Regions from separate parts of the Homo sapiens genome. Here region 2 is linked to region 1. Evidence: fine-mapped expression QTL. A gene starts in region 1. The other region holds a variant in brackets. All regions are shown on one strand. Distances are from middle to middle.

Region 1 (2,912 bases):
AACTCCCAGTCGCACTCCAGTATGTCCACAAACATGTCATTCTTTTTTAGGAAGACAAGGGGTTGCACACTGTCAACAAAGACAGCTGCTGTAGAAAATGGTATAAACTCAATGGAAAATTATGCTCTCCTTTCTCGGCATGATGGTGCGGGGGAATACTTGATACTTTAACATGGCGCCCCCATTTGACCAAGTGGAAAACTGCACATATTGCTGAGATCAGGAACACAGACTGGACCATGAAAGAATAGTACTTAGCTAAAAGGCCCAGAAAGGATTAAACCAATAACCCTGACCTCATTGGCACGGTGTTCTGACCTATCAGATTCGCACTTGCATTATAAACTTCCTACACATTCACTGTCCCCTAGATGGCCACAAAAACGTTAAGTCCAGGGCTTCAAAACAAACAACAAAAATTAGGTCAAGTACTCTGCATGTTAAGAAGAGAGAATACAAAGTGAGATATGGAAAAGAAACATCACTATCTGCCTTCCTACTTATCAACTATTAGAGAAAACAACAGCAAAAAAGGCTGCAACAAAGTAACGGTACAATACAAACATTACGAAAAAAGTTCAGTGGAATTCAAAAATAAGGAAACTAATATTACTTTGGGAAGATTTCATGAAGGAGGGCAGTTATTTTAAGAACGGTCAGGTTATAAAACCACGGCTGCTCGGCAACCTGGAGTTCCAACACACCCGACCTGATAGTTCCGGGTGAGAGGCCGCAGCTATCTGAGCTCTGAGCACCTGCACAACACGTTCTCAATCTCCCGCGGGACCGCTGCAGCGGTCCCCTATGAATGACTTTTAATTTTACCGCAGGCCGCAAAATAGGAATTACAGACCCCTGGCCTTAGGCCTTTCACAGCTATCTCCCAACACAATCAAAGGAGGTTCCAGTCTCAGTGACTCCTCTGGCCACGTGTAATAAGCACCTCCCTGCTCGGGCTGGATGCAGCAGCCAGGGCGTTATCTCCTAGTCTCTCTGACAACCCTCCTCTGGGGCGCAGCCCTCCACGTCCATCTCCCTCCCCTCAAACACTGAGAAGGTGACCGCGGAGTGGAGAGGCCTGGGGCTACGGACCCCTGCCACAGGAAGGACCCACCCCCATCTCCGGACAGGGCTACCTCAGCCCCAGCTCTGTCCGGGCCGAGGTTCTAGGAACCCTGAAACCCTGGCCCGGCCGCAGGTCTCCCAAGGCCGGCCTGCTTTTCTGGCCCTCACCAGTGCCAGTTGTTGACGTTGGTGGCGTCCGCCCGCTCCTCCACGATCCAGCGTGGGTCTCCCTCACCCCACTTGGCCATCGGCTCTCCTATCGCGGCGCCACCAGCTCCGGAGCAGCCGTAGCCACAGCCTCAGGACCGCTTAGTGCCAGCCGCCCGGCAGCGCCTGGAAACTACTAGAAGCGGCCGCAAGCACCTCCTGGCTTGCTTTTCCCTCCACCCCCTCCCCTCCTTAACTTCCGGCTCCTCCCCACTCCCACCGGTTACTTCCGTCCCAACTCGCCGCACCGTGGGTTCCGCCTGATTTAGAGATCCTTCAGACTCCATCGGGTTCTCCCCAAAAAGCGTCCCGAAACCCAACTGCTCATACAACCATTCCTCACCCATAGGAAAACAAAGAACACGTCTCATTGCTTCCCTGGACCCTAAATCGCCCTTGCTGAGCCTCATGGGAATTGTAGTCTTGCTACGTGACTCGCTGGATAACCGCGGAAGGTCTCGCGGAAAGGAGAGGAAATGACCTAGCACGGTGCTTGGGGTTTCTGGGGGCTGTAGTCAAGAAGCCTTGTGGTTCGTCGGGACAGCGCCTGACAGCAGAGGCAGAAGAAACTACGACTTCCAGCATGCCCTGCGGTCTCGTTATTCGTGTTTTCTCTCCGCCCTACGATTATTCCCTTCCGCCCCCTTCTCTAAGCTGCACAGCCTGAATAGAAGGGCTGGTCCAGCGGCGGCGGAGGCTGGCGCTGTCCTGAGAGGGAGGGCTCTGTGCGGAAGAGGTGAGGGTGTCCCAAGCCCCTTGGGTCGCGTATCTGGCTGGATCCAGCCTCTCCGCATCTTGATCTTTTCCCCTCTTCTAGGAGGCATCCCTACACCCTATGACTACAGGCCTGATTCTCTTCTTTCAGTCAGGGCGACCCTTGGGCGCTGGAGTACGCTTGGGACTGGGGCTGCGAGTGAGCACCAGCGATTGGTTCGGAAGCGGACATTTGGTTCAGAACGAGCATTTAACTCTGCCAGGGATCCGCTGGGCTCTGACGACTGCGGTAGATCCATGGCTTCCTGGACGTTCACCCGTAGAGTCATCCTAGCTTAACTCTTGTTCCCTGGTCTCAGTTCACAAGCCTCACCTGTATCTTCCTGGCTCGGAAGATAATTGAAACCAAGTCTGACTTCTCAGTAGGTGGTTTTTGGAGTTTTCTGAGGCAGGGAGCATGTTGTGGTTTTCTTGCTGATTCTTCTGTTTTCCTTTGTAAAGTTCCTGTTCTCCCCTGAGGTCTCTCACCCTGCCTTGTGGGCTGTCAGTAAACAAGAGACGATAAAGACAAACCTCTGAAGTATTTTAAATCATGTTGAAGCACCTGTCACTCTTAAGAGTGACAATCGTACCTGATTACTTTATAACTCTAGAGCCACTAGATCATTATCTATACTTGCCAAGTAAACCTAGCTTCTCATTTGGCGTTATAAATACAAATTGATGGCAGTTGTCTACTGCCATTGCATGGTTAAAAAGATTCCAGAAATCCTCTGGTAGATTATTGTGTTTGTTAGACACATTCTATGTCTATCTGTAGATAATTACTATAGTGAAGGAATGATCTCTAGTTTTCTGGAAAGTGAAAAATAGGTAGAAGGACCATGCAAGACACTAGAAATGGTCTAGGAGCCAGAAAGCCTGGA
Region 2 (2,912 bases), 23 kb after region 1:
TCTTTATCTCTTCTAAAAATTCACTATGGCTAAAACTTATCTGGAATAGTGTAATTAAAACTCAGAATTCTTCCTGGAGTGAGCAGAGTATGGGGAATAATGCAGCACTTTCTAAAAGATATATCTGTGAACTGGGCATTTAAAATCTGGCTTCTATTCTTGGCCTTCCCCATTGACCACATGACTTTTTGGCAAGACGCTGTCCCTCAGCATCTTCATGTATAACAATAATGTGGCCGGGCGCAGCAGCTCACGCCTGTAATCCCAGCGCCTTGGGAGGTTGAGGCAGGTGGATCACGAGGTTAGGAGATCAAGACCGTCCTGGCGAACATGGTGAAACCCTGTCTCTACTAAAAATACAAAAATAAGCTGGGCGTGGCAGCATACGCCTGTAGTCCCAGCTACTCTGGAGGCTGAGGCAGGAGAATTGCTTGAACTCAGGAGGTGGAGGTTGTAGTGAGCCAAGATCATGCCACTGCACTCCAGCCTGGGTGACACAGAGAAACTCCATCTCAAAACAAGCAGACAAACAAAAAACATAATGCAGTGTTGAAGATGGGACCCTTGACATTTGTGATATTTGCTGATCTATAAACATACCACCATGGCATGTAATTTAATTTACCTTTTGTACTCTGCCATAAAAAAATGGCTAACAAATCTAGGTGTCCCCTCAGTAAGTTAAGCACAAGCCACAGAATTTCACTGGGATGTGGATGATGGGCAGTTGCCTAGGCTCACTCATTAGCTTTGTGACTCATTCACCAAATATTCCAACTCTCAAAATGAGAGGATTCTAATTCATTTATCAGCAAAATTATGAGTGACTATAAGTATTTTGTGGACTCTCAGGATCCCTCTTGAATTGGCAAAACCTTTAATATGAAATTCACGCCATTCATGCGATGTCTTTCTTTAAGGGACGCTCTAAAGGTGAACTGAGATCAGACTTGTGAGGCACCGTGAGCCTCTTATACTTATGCTGGCGATTTGGTTTAGTTGGGTTTGTTTCCTTGTTTGAATAGAGAAAGGTACTAACCTTCTGGCACTCTACCAGTTTGCCATTTTCAGCAGAAGATTCCGCACACATACAGGACCATTACACGCTCCTGGAACGTCAGATCATTATTGAGGTTAGACTCTTCATCTCTATATCTTTTGCTTCAGTGCCAAGGCTCAGTGCCGTTCAGCATCTAGGAGATTTCTATGCTCTGCACGTGGGTCATTTCTTACTGGTTTCTAAAAGCCTTTCATTTTCTGCCTGTACACAATAGCCCCCTTCCTCCATTGTTTTTAGGATCCTTTTTCCTCTTACCAGCTGTTAACCTGGAAGTATTTCTTCTTCATCCCGAATCTCCCATGTCCTCCCCACTTCTATTTGTTTCCATCCAATGTGGATTCATGATCATTTGATGGATTTTAAACTACTCTGGGGATATCCTAGGCAATTTCTTTCTTTTTCTGTTCTTTGTTTCTCTCCTAGGGTGGGAAACACAACTGCTGTAGTATTAAAAGATTTTTCTCCTGCCTCTACTCCATGGACATTGTTTTTTTTTTTTTT[C/TC]ACTTGGCTCACTCCACCACAGGCAAATGATCGCCATCTAGAATCAGCAGGACAGACTGAGATCTTCCGAAAGCACCCCCGCAAAGCCTCCATCCTCAACATGCCACTAGTGACAACACTTTTCTACTCCTGCTTCTATCACTACACAGAGGCTGAGGTACAGGCAAAATATGGAAGATTCCACAAACTCTCATTGCACAAAAAGAAGATAGTTCAAATCCAGTACTTTTATGTACTCTATTAATAATGGGTATGTATAGTTCTCAGAAATCCACCTGGAAGCTTTCCTGGCCCTCACCAGGGGTAAGAGGGCCTCATCTGGCCAGGAGGGAAAAGAGGTTTGTAAGGTTTGTAGCTTCAAGTGAGCTGGCATGCTAGCATAGCAAGTTCTGTCCCTGGTGCTGTTACCTGTAGAAGTCTCTGTTCAAAGGTCCACAATATCAAATGGATTAGCATGATGTGGAGAAAAGCAGTAGGGTGGCAAGTAGCTATGGATACTTTTTTTTTTTTTTTCTCTGAGATGGAGTCTTGCTCTGTCGCCCAGGCTGGAGTGCAGTGGTGCGATCTTGGCTCACTGTAACCTCCGCCTCCTGGGTTCAAGCAATTCTCCTGCCTCAGCCTCCTGAGTAGCTGGGATCACAGGTGTGCGCCACCACTCCCCGCTAATTTTTTTTTTTTTGTATTTTTAGTAGAGACAGGGTTTCACCATGTTGGCCAGGCTGGTGTTGAACTCCTGACCTCGTGATCCACCTGCCTCAGCCTCCCAAAGTGCTGGGATTATAGGTGAGAGCCACCGCGCCTGGCTACTCTTTTTTTCTTTCTAAATTTTTCAAAGAAGTATGGATTCCATGATAACAGGCAGACATTTTCTCCTTATTTGGATTAGCAGAAAATGGGAAAAGGCACCATACTTATTACTCCAGTTCTTGATAAGCCAGCTTATAGTGGTATCTGACTATTCCCAATGGAGCTTTTCCCTGAAATTAATTTCTATGTTTAAATGGCAGCAGAGTAAGATGTAGAAAGTCTCTGTAGTGGGAAAGAAAATGAGAGCTTGGGTGGTACTTGGGAAAGTCAATATCACTAAAGTTCCTTTTTCACTTTCATCCTAGGGGACATTCAGCAGTCCCGTCAACCTGAAGAAGACATTTAAGGTAGATACAAATTGGTCAGTGTTATGAAACTAGTGATCAGGGTAACTACATGGAGTGGATGTTGCTTTGTAACCCTGTACAGTGTGTCCTTTGATATTCAAGGTTAAAGGTGGAAAGGAATGAGTTTGGGAAAGTGAGAGAAGACTGAATGGCCTATAGCAGTGCTGGGGCTTGGGAATTAAGAAGTTCTTGAACTG

Alleles and levels. Alleles are on the strand shown, and positions count from the first base shown. SD is a standard deviation of normalised expression in the study named.
In carriers of allele TC in region 2, the expression in monocytes after LPS of the gene that starts at base 1,410 in region 1 tends to be higher than with C alone (small effect, 0.35 SD a copy in Fairfax 2014).

Evidence for each region. PIP is the estimated chance that this variant, and not a neighbour inherited with it, causes the effect.
Region 2: its variant is fine-mapped to the expression of AHSA1 in monocytes after LPS (Fairfax 2014, PIP 0.95).

What each region holds. Positions count from the first base shown.
Region 1 is chr14:77,456,591-77,459,502 of GRCh38, reverse strand. It overlaps AHSA1 (activator of HSP90 ATPase activity 1), which reads right to left and starts at 1,410. Exons shown (of 9, transcript NM_012111.3): 1 at 1,234-1,410. The coding sequence starts at 1,313. VIPAS39 (VPS33B interacting protein, apical-basolateral polarity regulator, spe-39 homolog) reads left to right here and starts at 1,902. Exons shown (of 20, transcript NM_001193315.2): 1 at 1,902-2,008. RefSeq lists enhancers at 1,154-1,333, 1,059-1,581, 1,504-1,963, 1,582-2,104.
Region 2 is chr14:77,434,065-77,436,976 of GRCh38, reverse strand. VIPAS39 (VPS33B interacting protein, apical-basolateral polarity regulator, spe-39 homolog) reads left to right here. Exons shown (of 20, transcript NM_001193315.2): 13 at 1,058-1,133; 14 at 1,584-1,718; 15 at 2,674-2,715. Among named protein-coding and RNA genes, the nearest start is that of NOXRED1, 12 kb to the right of the region's middle. The variant C/TC (reference allele first, on the strand shown) is at 1,562.